Linked DNA regions of Homo sapiens: region 2 is linked to region 1. The links come from fine-mapping of genetic effects on gene expression. Tissue or cell type: whole blood. Region 1 holds a variant in brackets; the other region holds the start of a gene. All regions are shown on one strand. Distances are between the middles of the regions.

Region 1 (8,102 bases):
CCTCTATCACCGTGGGTCTTGAGTGGTGCTGGGATTCGGGCCCAGGCAGCTCCCTCTTATCCGTGACCCATTAAGGGCTCAGAAGAAAGCCAGGCACAGGATGGGTTCCCAGTCAGGATCTGCTATTCATTGCCATTGGCTGTCACTGTCTCCGAATTTTGCAGTTTTGGACAGAAACTGCAAAGTTTCGTGGAAAGAAAGCAAGTTTCCCAAAGTGGCCATTTATCAGGCATCCGTGGCAGGGGGTGACTTTTGAGTTTTAGTATCAGGATTCAGGGTCCTCCTGAGTGCGTGCTCGGAGGCTCAAGGATAGAGATGACAGAGATTTTGATGGGAGCTAAGCCAGGGACCACCAGGGCAGGCCTCTAGCATGGTCAGGTGGGAAGGGAGTTTGTGGCTGGGGGTTCCCAAACCCACTGAGTTTGCAATGCCTGGGGAGCTGCCCCCTAGGCTGCAGAGGCTGCAGGATCAACCCTGGAAGCTGGTTTCTTTGAGGGAAGAGGATGTCTCCTCCCTTGTGCTCACCCTAGAGGCCATTTGCGTGTCCTTCATTAATTCAATGGGTTCAGGCCACACACAAGCACACTACAGAAGTCCCTGTCCTCATGGAGGTTTTGGGCTGAGTGGGGACAGGGTTGGCAATGAAAACAGGTAACTTCTCATAAATGCTATGAAGATGAGCTAGGAAGAGAGAAGGGCATGACTGGGAGAGGCCTCTGCAGAGGTAGCCCTGGATAACCATGATGTGATGGACAGTGGGCTTTGCACATTTCAGGAGACTACAAGACTAGGGTGTGGCAAGTGCAAAGGCCCTGGGGCCTTCTCAGTGATGAGTGTGGAGTGAAGGAGTAAGGAAGGAGAGGATTGGAGTGGAGTGAGCCAGGAAGGGCAGCCAGAGAAAGAGGAAGGAGTAGGCAGGGCTATGGCTGCAGCGTGTAGAGGCTTGTGCCCCACGGTGAGGGGCGTAAGTTGTATCCCTAAGCCCAAGGAAGACCTGGGGAGGTTTTTTGTTTTTTTTTTGAGAAAGGGTCTTGCTCTGTCACCCAGGCTGGAATGTAGTGGTGTGGTCACAGCTCACTGCAGCCTCCAACTCCTGGGCTCAAGTGATCCTCCCTCCTCAGCCTCCTGAGTAGCTGGGACTACAGGTGCATGCCACCATACTATTTTTTATTTTTTTGAGACGGAGTCTTGCTCTGTCACCCAGGCTAGAGTGCAGTGGCGCAATCTCGGCTTACTGCAACCTCTGCCTCCCAGGTTCAAGCGATTCTCCTGCCTCAGCCTCCTGAGTAGTTGGGACTACAGGCGCGTGCAACCATGCCTAATTTTTGTATTTTTAGTAAAGATGGGGTTTTGCCATATTGGCCAGGCTGGTCTTGAACTCTGAACTCCTGACCTCAGGTGAACCACCCACCTCGGCCTCCCAAAGTGCTGGGATGAGGCATGCGCCACTGCACCCGGCCAATTTTTGTACTTTTTTTTTTTTTTTTTTAGAGATGGGGTCTCACTATGTTGTCCAGGATGGTCTTTAACTTGAACTGGCCTCAAGCTATTCCCCTGCCTCTGCCTCTCAAGGCACTGGGATTATAGGCATAAGCCACACACCCCAGCCCCTGGGGAGAGCTTTAAGCAAGGAGGTGACACTGATTTCAGTTTCGTAAGGACACTCTGAAAATAGTTTGAAACACAGAGGTGAGGACCTGAAACCCATGAGGAAGTGGTCACAGAGGTCCAGGTGGTCGTGGCTACAACTCGGGAGGGGTCAGCTGTGGGCACGATGGGGAAGGCAGGGATGGAGTCCAGGGTCAGGGCTGTGTTATGCTTACGGTGCCGATGAGACATTCAAATTGGAATAGAGAGTGGCAGGTGAAACCGACCTGGGTCTGGCCTGGATTTGCAGCTTGAAAGCCACTGGCCTATCTAAAAGCATAGTGTGTGCAGAAAAGAATGAATAGATCTGAGGCTGCTTCCTGAGAAAGGCCTGCTGGCAAGGTGGGCCTGCAGTTGGTAAAGTTCCCTACGGATATTAAAACTTCCCTACATGCGTGGCTCATACACTTTCTGTACAAGTGATGCGGTTTATGCTAAACCCCTGCTTTCTTTGTAGGAGTCTGGAATCCTGATAAGTGCCAGGTAGAGGGTTCCTATGTGACTGGCTCCATAAACACCTGGGTACAGAACTGCCAACTAGCTTTCACAAAAGACACATTACACACCTGTTGTTACAACTCATTGTTGGGGGAGTTAAGCATGGGGTGTGTGACCCCACTGTGAGAGGATTCTGGATGCTTCTGTCTGGTTGCCTCTGGACTTCACTCTGCATGCCTTTTCCCTTTGCTGATTTTGCTGTGATCTTGGCTGTGAGTACAGCTCTCTGCCAAGTCCTAGGGAATGACTGGACCTGGGTGTGGTCTTGGGAAGGACCCTGGATAGAGTGGAAGGAATGCCCTGGAAAGCCAGCCAGGAGAGGGCCCCTAGAAGGACCTGCCAGGGAGGCAGGAGGGACACAGTGGCCGAGCTGTGTGCCAGAAGCCAGGTGACGCAGGCTCACCATGTTGGCCAGGCTGGTCTCGAACACCTGAGCTCAAGTGATCAGCCCGCCTTGGCCTCCCAGAGTGCTGGGATTACAGGTGTGAGCCACTGCACCAAGCCAGGAGGCTTCTTTTCCCAATTTAGTCTTTTGATGATGGGTGGCATCTCCTCTGAGGTGGCCGCTCGATGGGGTAATCCATGGGCTCTACCATCTTGTCCAGACCCACCCCCAGCACCTGGCCATGTCCGTGTGGCCTACAGGGAAAATGTGGACATAAAAATCCTTGGACTTTAAGATGAGCTTTAATTTGTTTGTTTTCCTTAAGTGCATTTATCGATGTAAACAGAGCATGTTAGAGATTCCCGGGGAGAGCAGACTATTGCTGATATGTTGGTTTTAATTCAAAAGAAACGATGATGCCAATGGTTTGGATTGACAGCAGCTTAAGGAGGAAAAAAAAAAAAAGAAAGAAAAAAAGAAAAGGCTGGTGACACCCCCCTGGCGTGGTTGACCTGGTCCCAGTCGCAGTCCCTATGGGACAGCAGAGCTGTCAAAACAGAACCCAATGATGACGGCTGAAAATCAAGCCAGACTGCTGTGCGGTCAGCTTGCCGCCGTGGAATGCCTTGTGTCTTGGCCATGTCCAGCCAAGGGTACAACGTGCTTGTTCCCGATCACCCAGGTTTGCCATTGGAAGTCAAAGACAGAATCGCTTCATGGCACTACAGATGTGGAAAAATAAAAATCTCAGCTAGAAAGAACGTCCGATTTGGAGATAGCGGGAGGACACGAAGGAGTGGGGGCCATTTTGGTGCTGAGAGGAGGGTGCCCCAACTTCAGGAGGACCATGTGACGGCTGTGGTTGTTTTCGGGGTCACTTGCAGCACACACAGCGTCCCCTTGATGCTCGATGGGGACCGCAGACGGGCCTGCAGACCTAACCCCTGGCTGTGGACAGGAGAGGCTGCTCCAGGCTTCTTTCCTTCTCAATGCTTTACACAGGATTTCCTTCATTTGTGCTTTCCTTTGGTTTAACAGTTAAAAAAGAAGAGTGAGGGGGCAAAATGGTTTGTCACTTGTCCAAAACTGAGAGAAGAGGTGGAAGTGGGCGCCAAATCTCCTGGGTGATGCTTCCTGGTCCTGGCGATCGGTTGCCTTGCTCAGGGTTTGGGAGCTGTTGCTCCTGGAACCACCGCTGGCCTTCTGGGACCTCGCTTCCGTGGTAGGGGACGTGAACCAGCCTCCTGGTGGAGCTTTGTGTTGCAGTGAGGCCACAAAGCAAAGGCCCAGAGGCAGAGGCCTGACACTGGCTGTGGTCGACGGTCACACCTTGACTCCCTCTCTCTCTCTGAATATACAACGTGTGGGTGGGCCCGTTCAGCAGATGTTACAGGAAAAATAGCAAATTTTTAACTTATTCCATCTCCAAAGTTGAAAAAGATCAGACAGTTACTAAAATAAACGATTTCTCAATTGCATTCTGGTGGCCGTGGGCCCGGTGGC[C/T]GCGGCGTGGGCGGGGCGTTGGAGGTGGGAGGGCCCCGGCTGAGTGAGGGGCTCACTCAGAACAGGCACAGTCAGCTGGGCTGAGCGAGGCTCAGAGTAAGGCGGTGTTCCTCACAGAAGAACACATCGGAAAAAGCTGCTCCTCTTCTGCTGGTCCGGTGTGATTTTGACTCCCTGGTTGCTCCCCTGGGGGCTGTTGCCTTCCTGAAATCACAAGAGGTTTTCTGAGGTTATCACTGAGAATCAGCACTACGTCTCACAATCAACCAGCCATCCACCTAACCATCCACCTAACCATCCATCCAACCATCCAACCAACCAACCAACCAACCAACCAAACAACCAAACCAATCAAACCAGCCAAACCAACCAACTAACCAACGAGCCATCCAACCATCCATCCATCATCTGCCAGGTCATCCATCCATTACCATTCCAGCCATCCAACCAACCAATCAGCCATCAAACCATCCATCCATCATCTGCCAGTCCGTCCAGCTGTCCCCTTCCAACCATCCAACCAACCAACCAACCAACCAACCAACCAACCAACCAACCAACCATCCATCTATACCCTTTCAACCATCCATCCATCCACTCACCCATTCCCTTCCATCCGTCTATCCACCTGCTTCCAACCAACAAACCAATCAACCAACCATCCATCCCTTCCAACCAAGAACCATCCACTCATCCATCCCTTTCCAACCATCCATCTTCTTCCAACCATCCATCCCCTTCCAACCAACCAACCAACCATCCATCCCCTTCTAACCACCTCATCCAACCAACCATCCATCCATCCCTTTCCAACCATCCATCCACCCATCCATCTCCTTCCCCCCATCCACCCTCTTCCAACTAACCATCTCCTTCTAACCACCCCTTCTGACCAATCAACCATCCATCCATCCCCTTCCAAGCAACCACCTCCTTCCAACCAACCATTCATCCATCCCCTTCCAACCAACCAACAAACCAATCATCTATCTATCCAACCATCTCCTTCCAACAAATCAACCATCGATTTATTCCCTTTCAACCAACCATCCATCCATTATCTTCTACCCATCCATCCAATTCTCTTACAACTGATAATTCGTTTTTCAGAAACAGATCTATTTTCCATCTGCTATATACCACCCCTTCCAACCACTCTCTCACTTATCTGCCCACCCCATCATACCCTTCCCAGCACTTTGGGAGGCTGAGGCAGAAGAACTGCTTGAGCCCAGGAGTTTGAGTCCAGCCTGGGTAACAAGTGAGATCCTGCCTCTTAAAAAAGAAAAAATGGCCAGGCGGGGTGGCCCACACCTGTAATCCCAACACTTTGGGAGGCCGAGGCAGGTGGATCACCTGAGGTCAGGAGTTCAAGACCAGCCTGACCAACATGGTGAAGCCTCGTCTCTACTAAAAATACAAAAATTAGCTGGGCGTGGTGACATGTGCCTGTAATCCCAAGTACTCGGGAGGTTGAGTCAGAAGAACCGCTTGAACCTGGGAGGCAGAGGTTGCAGTGAGCAGGGATTGCACCATTGCACTCTAGCCTGGGCAACAGAGCGAGACTCCTTCTCAAAAAAAAAGAAAAAGAAAAAAAATTAGCCAGGCATGGTGGTGTGTGCTTATAGCCCCAGCTACTTGGGAGGCGGAGGTGGGAGGATTGCTTGAGCCCAGGAGTTGAAGGCTGCAGTGAGCTGTGATGGTGCCACTGCACTCCAGCCTAGGTGGCAAAGTGAGACTCTAAAAAAAAAATCTCTTTTTTAACTAATAAGAAAACTAAAAGAAAAAAGAATCAGACCTTGACCATTATACTGAAGAAAAAAAATTGCAAGAAAATCCCAAATTATTGTTGGTCAGTGCACTGGTTTCCATGAACTGTTTCCCATTTTAATTTAATGGCCAAAGAGCTGCTATTAAATCAATCACATGCCTCACTGTTCAACACACCGCATCTTAGAATTACAAAACAGATTTGCTTACATCAGATGTAAAACTTGAACGGCATTTTGTATTTTATGTGCATTCTCAAGTGACCAGACTTAACCCACAAATAGAGCGCCGTGTGCTCCTCGATTGGACAACCAATGTAACATGGCCGGGAAAGGGCAGTTGCTGGAACCAGGGCGAGGGAGGAAGGGTCACTACGGTGTTTAGGCACTAAATGCCCCCAAAGTACAGGGAAGTGTTTGATTCCATCAAGAAAGCACCATTGATACTGAGCGCAGCGGACTAGGAAATCGCTAACGTGGTAAAAAAAAAAAAGCAAGAAACGAATGAGAGGGTAGATGGGTAGGGATTCATGCAGACTTCCCTGGAGGCCTCAGAGAACCCTGGGACACAATGAAGGTTGCAGAGCTGTCACAACTTGTAGCATCTGGGGCTGGGGTGGAGCGGGGGCAGGTTCTTGATCTGCCATGCTTGTCAAGACGATGAGCCAGCAGTTATCAGACACCAGCCCTGGCCCTGCCCAAGCGACCTAGGAAGCTTTTCTCCGAGCCATGGCTCTCTGTCCTTGCACACCATGTTGTCTTTCTGGCCCTTGAGTGGAATGGAAAAGGCCGTGTGCTCCCTGCTAGCCTGGGGATTCACCGGGCACGGCCTTGTCTGCTTGGGCAGCGTCCCCAGGCTGGCACTGCCTGATGCTGATGCCCCAGCCACACCTGCAAACTCTTCCCCCTTTCCCAGCAATGTCCCATGGGGTCTGGCTGGGCCCTAAAAAGCAGGATCTAGGGCACGTCATATCACTGCTGCTAACGACGATGGCTGGATCCCAGAGATCCACCCGGGGATCTCGGAAGGACACACACTCACCAATTTTTTGTCCATTTTTGCTTTGATATCTCTGGCGAGAGTGAAAAATGCCTGTGGAATAAGCACATTGTGAGTCCTTGGGATGGCAGGACCCTGAGTCCTCAGCCGCCCGTGTACAGCGGGTGTGGTGAGACAGCTTCCCAGGCGTGGGCCTCCCATTTGGCCCTTTGATGCCCGCCTCTGGCAGTGGGTTCATCTGGCCTGTCCGGCCCCAGCTCATCCTTCCCCGGCTCCCTCTGCCTCCCACCCACCCTTACTCTCTGACATCAACTCTCACTTCCGCAGAGCACCTTAGCATTGACGGGACTTTACGCATGTGCCACCTCCCCTAAGCCCTGTGAGATGGGGCGACACTCAGTTGGCCAGAGAGGAAACTGAGGCTCAGAGAGGCCAAGTGACTTGTCCAAAGGAACCCAGCAGTTAACCGACCAATCCAGAAGGATCTAGGAGTGCCCAGTTCTTTGTCTCTGACTCCTAGGTTCTGTCAGCTCTGGCCTCCCTTCTGATGGTCAGGGAAAAAGGCAAGCAGCTCTGTGGCCAAACAAGCTTCACTCGGAGTCCTTGCCTGGCAGGGCTGGGAGCGGGAGCAGGTTCATCTCCCAGCACAGCCAAGGGTTGAGCTGCTGTCACAGCCTTGAGGAGGGGACATACAGAGATGGCGGGAGGCGTGATCCCAACATACATCCCCATGATGTGGGAGGTTCTGGAGAGGAGAGTGGCTTGGGGTGCGGAGGAAGGCCCAGGGGAGACTGAAGGTGTTCTTGGGGAGAGGCCCCCAGGGCCAGGCCCTGACTAGAAAAGGGAACCTGGCAGGCAGAAAAAGGGGCACACAGGAGGGAAATGCAGTGACGTATTGGAGAAGGGAGCAGCCCAGGTGGCCTGGGGAGGGCAAGGCCTGAGCCCTGGGTGGCAAACACCAGCTGTAGCCGGTGAGGGAGGGCCTTCCACGCCAGGCAAGGAGTCTAGCCTTTGTCTTCACGTCAGCATAGAGACTTTAGGTCGGGAGTGATATGGAAGATCCGCCTTGGAAACATGACTAGGATGGGGAAACATCACAGGATCGGCCGCAGGGCTGGGGTCGCCCCGTGGAGAGGGGAGGGTGGCATGGGCCCAGGTCCCATCAGGGCTCCCTGCTATGTCTGGGCTTTTTTGACAGGGGCCTCTCCAGGGTGAGTGGTGTGGCTGAGAGGGTAAACACAGAGCTGGGTCTTTCTGAGCCTTAGTTTCCTCACCTGTAAAACCGTGCCTATTCCCCAGG
Region 2 (8,102 bases), 22 kb after region 1:
TTAATTAGGAAGTGTAAACTTTATGAGGCCTAAGAATTATGAGGTCTGACCTTCAAGGTCATGGTGAATTAGACTTTCCTAGAAGACAGAAGGCTACAAATGGAAGGAGGGGAATGAAGGGGTGGGAGGGAGGGATCTTAGGGTCAGGTGCCACCTCCACCTTGCTAGGTAACTTTCACCAAGTCACATCCTCATCTGCAAATGGAAGAAAGCCTCTTTAAAGCTCAAAGTAACTCTAAAGAGGGGGGTTGGGCTGGGCGCGGTGGCTCATGCTTGTAATCCCAGCACTTTGGGAGGCCAAGGTGGGCGGTCACGAGGTCAGGAGTTCGAGACCAGCCTGGCCAACATGGTGAAACCCCATCTCTACTAAAAAAAAAAAAAAAAAAATACAAAAATTAGCTGGGCATGGTGGCAGGTGCTTGTAATCCCAGCTACTTGGGAGGCTGAGACAGGAGAATCGCTGGAACCTGGGAGGTGGAAGTTGCAGTGAGCCGAGATCGCGCCACTGCACTCCAGACTGGGTGACAAAGAGAGACTGTCTCAAAAAAAAAAAAAAAAAAAGAGGGGGGTTTGTGGGGAAGGCTGGGAAACTGGGATCTGAGTGAATGCAAGCCAGTCTGCTCACAGTTAACATCATTTCTTTCTTTCTTTTATTTTTATTATTATTTTTTAAGACAGGGTCTCGCTCTGTTGCCCAGGCTGGAGTGCAGTGACACCATCACAGCTCACTGCACCTTGACCTCCTGGGCTCAATCGATCCTCCCACCTTGGCCTCCCAAGTGGCTGGGTCTACATGGGTGAGCCACTGTGCCCGGCTGATTTTATTTTATTTTTTGTAGAGATGGGGTTTGCCATGTTGCCCAGGCTGAATTAACGCCACTTCTTGATTGGTTGGAGCACAAGAATTACCCTAAAGTTTAGCCTTGGAGTGGGGGAGGGGGAAGAATTCAGAAACATCTGTCTTCAGAGGCTGGATGCTGTCACTGCAGGAGCCATTCATTTGCTTCCTCTAGATAGCCTCTGGTTGTGGTGACAACCCCTTATTGTCTAATTCTAATCCTCAACCACCAGGGCACTAGGCTGGGCAGACAGTGTCACTCCTGCTCTAAAGACAGCAGGGCTCAGAGAGGGGTAGTGCACATTCAAGGGCAAACAGCAACTGGAAACCAGACGTAATGATTTCCAGTCAATTCTCTCTATTTTACATCTGGCATATAACTGTTTTATAAAGCACAGCTCCGCTGGGTGCGGTGGCTCATGCTTGTAATCCCAGCACTTTGGGATGCCAAGGCAGGCAGATCACAAGGTCAGGAGTTCGAGACCAGCCTGACCAACACAGTGAAACCCTGTATTTACTAAAAATACAAAAATTAGCTGGACGTGGTGGCGGGTGCCTATAATCCCAGCTACTAGGGAGGCTGAGGCAGGAGAATTGCTTGAACCCGGGAGGCAGAGGTTGTAGTGACCCGAGATCCTGCCGCTGGATTCCAGCCTGGGCAAAAGAGCTAGACTCCGTCTCAAAAAATAAAATAAAATAAAATAAATAAAGCATAGCTCCTGGAGGAGGGCAAGAATGGAATTAGCACATTATCTTGGGGTTCAGGGAGATAACACGATTCTGTCAAAGTGACACAGTAAAGCAAAGGCCATTCCCTAGGTTTTCTTGAGTCGGAATAAACTCCTGGACTTAGTGACCGTTCCCCCACTTTCCCCATCCCTAGCAGGGCTACAGAGCTCACAAGCCACTCAAATAGGTGTTACTCCTGGGTCAAACCTTTTCATTGTGGGCCAGGACTGCTTTTGTGGCACTGAGAGAGGTCAGCTCCACTTCTGTGGACATCACAACTGAGATGCACCAAGCCAATTCTGTTCAACCACAATGTGGGCTGGCCCTACAGGAAAAGCTGTTCTAAAGTGACAGCTGGAGTCTTGGGCCCTTTGATAGGGAAGTCAAGGCTGTCTGTGGCAGTGGCTGATTTAGTTTCTCGCTGAGGCTTTTATCTTGCATCTTCTTGGGGATGACAGGTCCCAGGGCAGGCAGTGCTGTCACTTGCCATTGCTGTCATTCCTGGAGCAGGATGAAAGGTGGGCAGGGAAAAGGTCCTGACTCTTCTTATCATTCCTTCTAGAGGAAAATACGCTTATGAGGGGAAGCATGGTCAGGGAGAGGGGCTCAACCTCTGAACGCTCCAGAGAAAAGAGCAGGAATGGTGTGGGTTAGAGTCCCGGCTCCAAGGTGCATTAGCTGAGCTTGTCATCAGCTGGGAGTGTGCAGTGGCATCTCTCTAGGAGAGCTAAGCCTCGAGTTTTGGGTTGAGACACAGCCAGGTTCAAATTCCATCAAATCCCATTCTCACCACGTGCAGACTGTGTGGCCTTGGGCAAGTTCCATGCCCTCCCTGAGCCTCAGATTCCTCATCTTGTCAGACGGGCTCATAACAGCACTTAACACCAAGAACTGAAGAGTGTGAAAATGCACGTGAAGCACTTGGCACATAGTAAATGCTCATTAAGGTGAGATGCCACTGTCTTTTTCCCATGGCCAATTCCCCATGACTCAGTTTCCACTTCTGTAAGGCAAGAGCCTCAAAAGAACCGCTTCGAGGGCTGCTGCTAGGACAGATCGAGAGGACGGGCGCGAAGACCCCAGCCCAAGACATAACACGCCCTAACGAGCGGGCTGAGGGTCGGAGCCTCAGTCTCCCTATCTGCAAAATGGGCACCTGGTCTCCCCCACCACGGCCCAGGAACCCCCGAACGGCGGTGCAGGCGACTGCTCTTCTCCCTTTAGGCCCCCTCGACCCTCTCAGCGCCCTCGGCCCGTCCAGCCCTGTAGATCCCTCAGCCCCAGCCCCTCAGGGGCGCGCCCAGCCCGGGCCTCCGGCGCCCCCAGCCATTCCCCGGTCCCGTTACCTATGGTGGAGATAAAAGTGGAGTTGAAGGCGTCCTCGGAGAAGCGGAACAGGACACAGGTCTTCCCCACCCCCGAGTCCCCGATCAGCAGCAGCTTGAACAGGTAATCGTAGGTCTTCGCCATATTACACTCTCTCCCCGACGGGAAGTGCGGCCAGCGCCTCTCCACTGGCCACCAGCACCGTCCATCAGCACCGAGCCCGCCCCTTATTGGCTCCAGGCCCGCTGCGCGTCACCGCGGCCGACGCCCGCCCCTGCGTCCCGCCAGTCGCGGGGAGACCTTGGGAGGGGGCGAGCGGAGCGCGGAGCCGGAAGCAGCCCGAGCGCACCTCCCATTGGCCGGCACTAGGGAGAGCACGGGCTCTGATTGACCAGCAGTGAAGAGTCGCGGGGCTTCAAATGGGGACGAGGCGGGGGCGTGGCATTATGTGGCCCCCGCCTTCCACCCCCGACTCGGGCGGCCCGGCCCCGCCCCACTGTAGGAGAGGGAAGGCAGGGAGCGGCGCCAACCGCTCGCGCGCCGGCAGCCTGGCGGGGCGTGGCTTGGGGTGCGTGCGCACGCGCGCCCGGAGTTCCGTTAGGCGACAGCAGAGGGCGCACGCCAGTAGTTGGGGCGGGTGTCTCTGGGTCCCGCCCTCACAGCTCGCGCAGGCGCAGTAGGCACCGAGGCGAGCGCGGGAAAGCAAGGTAGCGCTCTCAGCCTTGTCTGCGGCCTGCGAGTCGGGGCAGTGGGGGCCTAGGGAGGAAGGAGAGAGGAGGAGCTGTATACTCGAAAAGTGACCCAAGCCGGACGCGGTGGTTCACGCCTTTAATTCCCACACTTTGGGAAGCCGAGGCGCGTGGATCACGAGGTCAGGAGTTCAAGACCAGCCTGGCCAAGATGGTGAAACCCCGTTTCTACTAAAAATACAAAAATTAGCCGGGCGTGGTGGCGGGCGCCTGTAATCCCAGCCACTCGGGAGGCTGAGGCAGAGAATTGCTTGAATCTGGGAGGCGGAGCTTGCAGTGAGCCGAGATCGCGCCATTGCACTGCAGCGTGGGCGACAGAGAGAGACTCCGTCTCAAAAAAAATAAATAAAAGTGACCCAAGACGAGCTCCGAGGTCTGCGGCCTAGCGATCTGCTTAGAGATACCCAAGGCCTCCGCCATCTGAGCGGCTTCACCGCCACAAGCTGTGCCCGGAAGCGCGCGCCGGCCTCCTCAGGGCCCGCCCTCGGCCACCTTAGGGGTTGTCCGGGCCAGCCCGGGGATGGTGGGGGGGGAGGGGTTAGAGCAGTGAGGATGCTGGGTCCTATCTAGGGGCCAGGGCTCTCAACGTTGAAAAAACTGGCCGGGGCGTTGGCTCCCGTCTGTGATCCCAGTGCTTTGGGAAGCCAGGAGGTTGAGGGTGCAGTAAGCCGTGATCGCCCCACTGCAATTCGGCCTGGGCGACAGAGCAAGACCCTATCAAAAGAAAAAAAGGCTGGGCGCGGTGGCTCAGGCCTGTAATCCCGCACTTTGGGAGGCCGAGGCGGGCGGATCAGGAGGTCAGGAGATCGAGACCATCCTGGCTAACGCGGTGAAACCCCGTCTCTACTAAAAACACAAAAAATTACCCGGGAGTAGTGGCGGGCGCCTGTAGTCCCAGCTACTCGGGAGGCTGAGGCAGGAGAATGGTGTGAACCCGGGAGGCGGAGCCTGCAGTGAACCGAGATCGCGCCACTGCACTCCAGTCTGGGCGACAGAATGAGACTACGTCTCAAAAAAAAAAAAAAAAAAAAAAAGAAAGAGAAAAACAGAGGAGAGATACATTTGGAAAATCGGGCTTGCAGCTGGGTGTGGTGGCTCAGGCCTGTAATCCCAGCACTTTGGGAGTCAGCACTTTGGGAGGCAGGAGGATTGCTTGAGCTTAGGAGGTCAAGACCAGCCCGGACAAGATAGGGAGATCCCCATCTCTACAACAAATAAAATTAGCTGGGCGTCATGGTGCACGCTTGTAATCCCAGCACTTTGGGAGGCTGAGGTGGAGGTTCATTGGAGGCCAGGAGGTGGAGACCAGCCTGGGCAACATAGCAAGACCTCCATCTCTGCAAAAAAAAAAAAGTTTTTTGGCCAGGCGAGGTGGTTCACACCTGTAATCCCAGCACTTTGGGAGGCCAAGGCAGGTGGATCACCTGAGGTCAGGAGTTCCAGACCAGCCTGGCCAACATGGTAAAACACCATCTCTGCTAAAAATACAGAAACTAGGCAGGTGTGGTCATGTGCGCCTGTAGTCCCAGCTACTCAGGCGGCTGAGGCACCAGAATTGCTTGAATCTGGGAGGCGGAGGTTGCAGTGAGCCGAGATTGTGTCACTGCATTCCAGCCTGGGTGACAGAGCAAGGCTCCATCTCAAAAAACAAAAAATTTTTTTAAAAAATTAGCCAGGTATGGTGGTGTATGCTTGTAGTCCCAGCTACTCAGGAGGCTAAGGTGGGAGGATCCCTTGAGCCCAGGAGGTCAAGGCAGCAGTGAGCTGTGATCGCACCATTGCACTCCAGCCTGGGCGACGGAGCAAGACCCTGACTTTTTTTTTTTTCTGAGATGGAGTCTCTCACGGTCACCAGGGCTGGAGTGCAATGGCGCGATCTTGGCTCACTGCAACCTCTGCCTCCCGGGTTCAGGCGATTCTCCTGCCTCAGCCTCCCAAGTAGCTTGGATTCCAGGCACCCACCACCACGCCTGGTGTGGTGTATTTTTTTGTATTTTTAGTAGAGATGGGGTTTCACTGTGTTGGCCAGGCTGGTCTCGAACTCCTGACCTCGTGATCCGCCTGCCTCCACCTCCCAAAGTACTGGGATTACAGGCGTGAGCCCCTGCACCCGGCCCCTGACTCTTAAAATTTTAATCCCAGTACCAGCCCAGCAAAACGATGTTATTGTTTTTTTCCTGTTTAATGGTGAGAAAACTGAAGCCAGAGGAGGTTAAGTGACTTTTCCCCCTTCCTGCTTAAAAGTGGGAATTTGGTATCTGAACTCAGAGTGCCAAGCTTCCCAGGCCGCAGTTTGATCACTAGGGCTCCCTGCTTCTTAGAGATGGTCCAGTCTGTTCTAGGTCACTCTGGGGCCTCCGGGGCCTTGAGGCTTACTTAAGGATCTGTGGAAGGAGGGCCCAGCCTTTCCTCCTCCCTTCCACTTCAGCTCATTCTTCTGCTAATCTAGCTCTGGTTAAAAAAGCTTCAACCAGAGGCATTGACCACCTACAGGCCTCAGCCTCTGTGGTATTTGATAGTCTTGATCACCTCTGAATATTCTTTTTTCTTGGTATTATCCTCATTTATTTACTTATTTTTGAGACAGGGTCTTGTTCTGTGGCCCAGGCTGGAGAGCAATGGTGTGATTTCACTCACTGCAACCTCCGCCTCCCAGGCTCCAGTGATTCTCCCACCTCAGCCTCCAGAGTAGCTGGAACTACTGGCATGCACCACCACGCATGGCTAATTTTTATTTTTTGTAGAGATGGGGTCTTGCTATGTTACCCAGGCTGGTCTGGAATTCCTGGGCTCAAGCCATCCTCCCACCTCAGCCTCCCAAGTAGCTGGGACTACATCTGCACGCTACTATGGCAGGCTAATTTTTTTATTTTTTGTAGAAATGGGGTCTCCCTATGTTGCCCAGGCTGGTCTCAAACTCCTGGGCTCAAGAGATCCTCCAGCCTCCACCTCCCAAAAAGCTGGGATCACAGGTATGAGCCACCATGCCTGGCCCTATACCATTATTATTTTTTTTTTTGAGATGGAGTTTCACTCTTTGTTGCCTAGGCCGGAGTGCAGTGGCACGATCTCAGCTCACTGCAACCTCTGCCTCCCGGGTTCCAGTGATTCTCCTGTCTCAGCCTCCTAAGTAGCTGGGATTACAGGGGCCCACCACCACATCTGGCTAATTTTTGTATTTTTAGTAGAGATGGGATTTCACCACATTGGCCAGGCTGGTCTCGAACTCCTGAGCTCAGGTGATCTGCCCACTTCGGCCTCCCAAAGTGCTGGGATTACAGGTGTGAGCCACCACGCTTGGCCCCTATCCCCCTTTTTTTTTTTTTTGAGATGGAGTCTCGCTCTTTCACCCAGGCCGGAGTAAAGTGGCATGATCTCGGCTCACTGCAACCTCTGCCCGCCGGGTTCAAGCGATTCTTCTGCCTCAGCCTCCCGAGTATCTGGGATTACAGGCACGTGCCACCACGCTCGGCTAATTTTTGTTATTTTTAGTAGAGACAGGGTTTCACCATGTTGGCCAGGCTGGTCTTGAACTCCTGACATCAAGTGATCCCCTCAAAGTGCTGGGATCACAGGCATAAGCCACTGTGCCCGGCCCTGTCCCTATTTTATTTGCTGGTTTCTTCTCCCTACCACCTCTGCCTCTGCCTCCCCTTCTTTGTTTGTTTGTTTTTTCCTCAGACCCCATTGAAGTCTTTTTGAGGTGGGGGAGGGGTGGGTTCTGCCTGTCCCTTAGTGTTTGTGGTCCTCGTTGTTCTGTCTCTGTTCTCACTTTCTGGGGGCTCCTAATCCATGCTGACCATTCTCAGTGTTTTATCCTTAGCCCAGCCATCTCTTCACATCCACCTGCGTTCAGGACATCTCCCTTTGGATTTGTCAGATACTCCTAGCTCAGCATGTTCACAACTGAACCCATCAGCCAATACCCAGACTGGCTTGTCCTGATTTTCCTTAGGAGTGAAACTTAAGCTGTCTTTGACATCTGCCTTTCATCTCTCATCCGTCACATTCTGGTTTTTAAGGAGGTTCTAAATAGCTCTTGAGGGCCGGGCGCGGTGGCTCATGCCTGTAATCCCAGCACTTTGGGAGGCCGAGGTGGGTGGATCACCTGAGTTAGAAATTTGAGACCAGCCTGGGTAACATGGTAAAACCCCGTTTTTCCTAAAAATTAAAAAAATTAGCCGGGTGTGGTGGGCATCTGTAATTCCAGCTACTCAGGAGGCTGATGCAGGAGAATGGCTTGAATCCGGGAGGCGGAGGTTGCAATGAGCCAAGATTGCACCACTGCACTCCAGCCTGGGTGACAGAGCAAGACTCTGTCTCAAAAATAAAAAATAAAAAAACAAATAGCTCTTGAATTGCATTCTTCCATTTCCATTGCCACAGTGGAATCATTACATTTCTCCACTGGTCTCCCTGACCATTTTCTCTAACCCAGATTCCACCCTGCAGTGTGCTTA

What was found. PIP is the estimated chance that this variant, and not a neighbour inherited with it, causes the effect.
Region 2: RAB8A starts here. The variant in region 1 is fine-mapped to the expression of RAB8A in whole blood (INTERVAL, PIP 0.97).

What each region holds. Positions count from the first base shown.
Region 1 is chr19:16,128,347-16,136,448 of GRCh38, reverse strand. It overlaps RAB8A (RAB8A, member RAS oncogene family), which reads right to left. Exons shown (of 8, transcript NM_005370.5): 7 at 6,845-6,895; 8 at 2,215-4,237. The coding sequence ends at 4,145. The region is part of intron 1 of HSH2D-AS1 (HSH2D and RAB8A antisense RNA 1); the gene reads left to right. It also overlaps a transcript of HSH2D not described here. Among named protein-coding and RNA genes, the nearest start is that of HSH2D-AS1, 7.5 kb to the left of the region's middle. The variant C/T (reference allele first, on the strand shown) is at 4,034.
Region 2 is chr19:16,106,837-16,114,938 of GRCh38, reverse strand. RAB8A (RAB8A, member RAS oncogene family) reads right to left here and starts at 3,050. Exons shown (of 8, transcript NM_005370.5): 1 at 2,914-3,050. The coding sequence starts at 3,037. RefSeq lists a silencer at 3,008-3,667.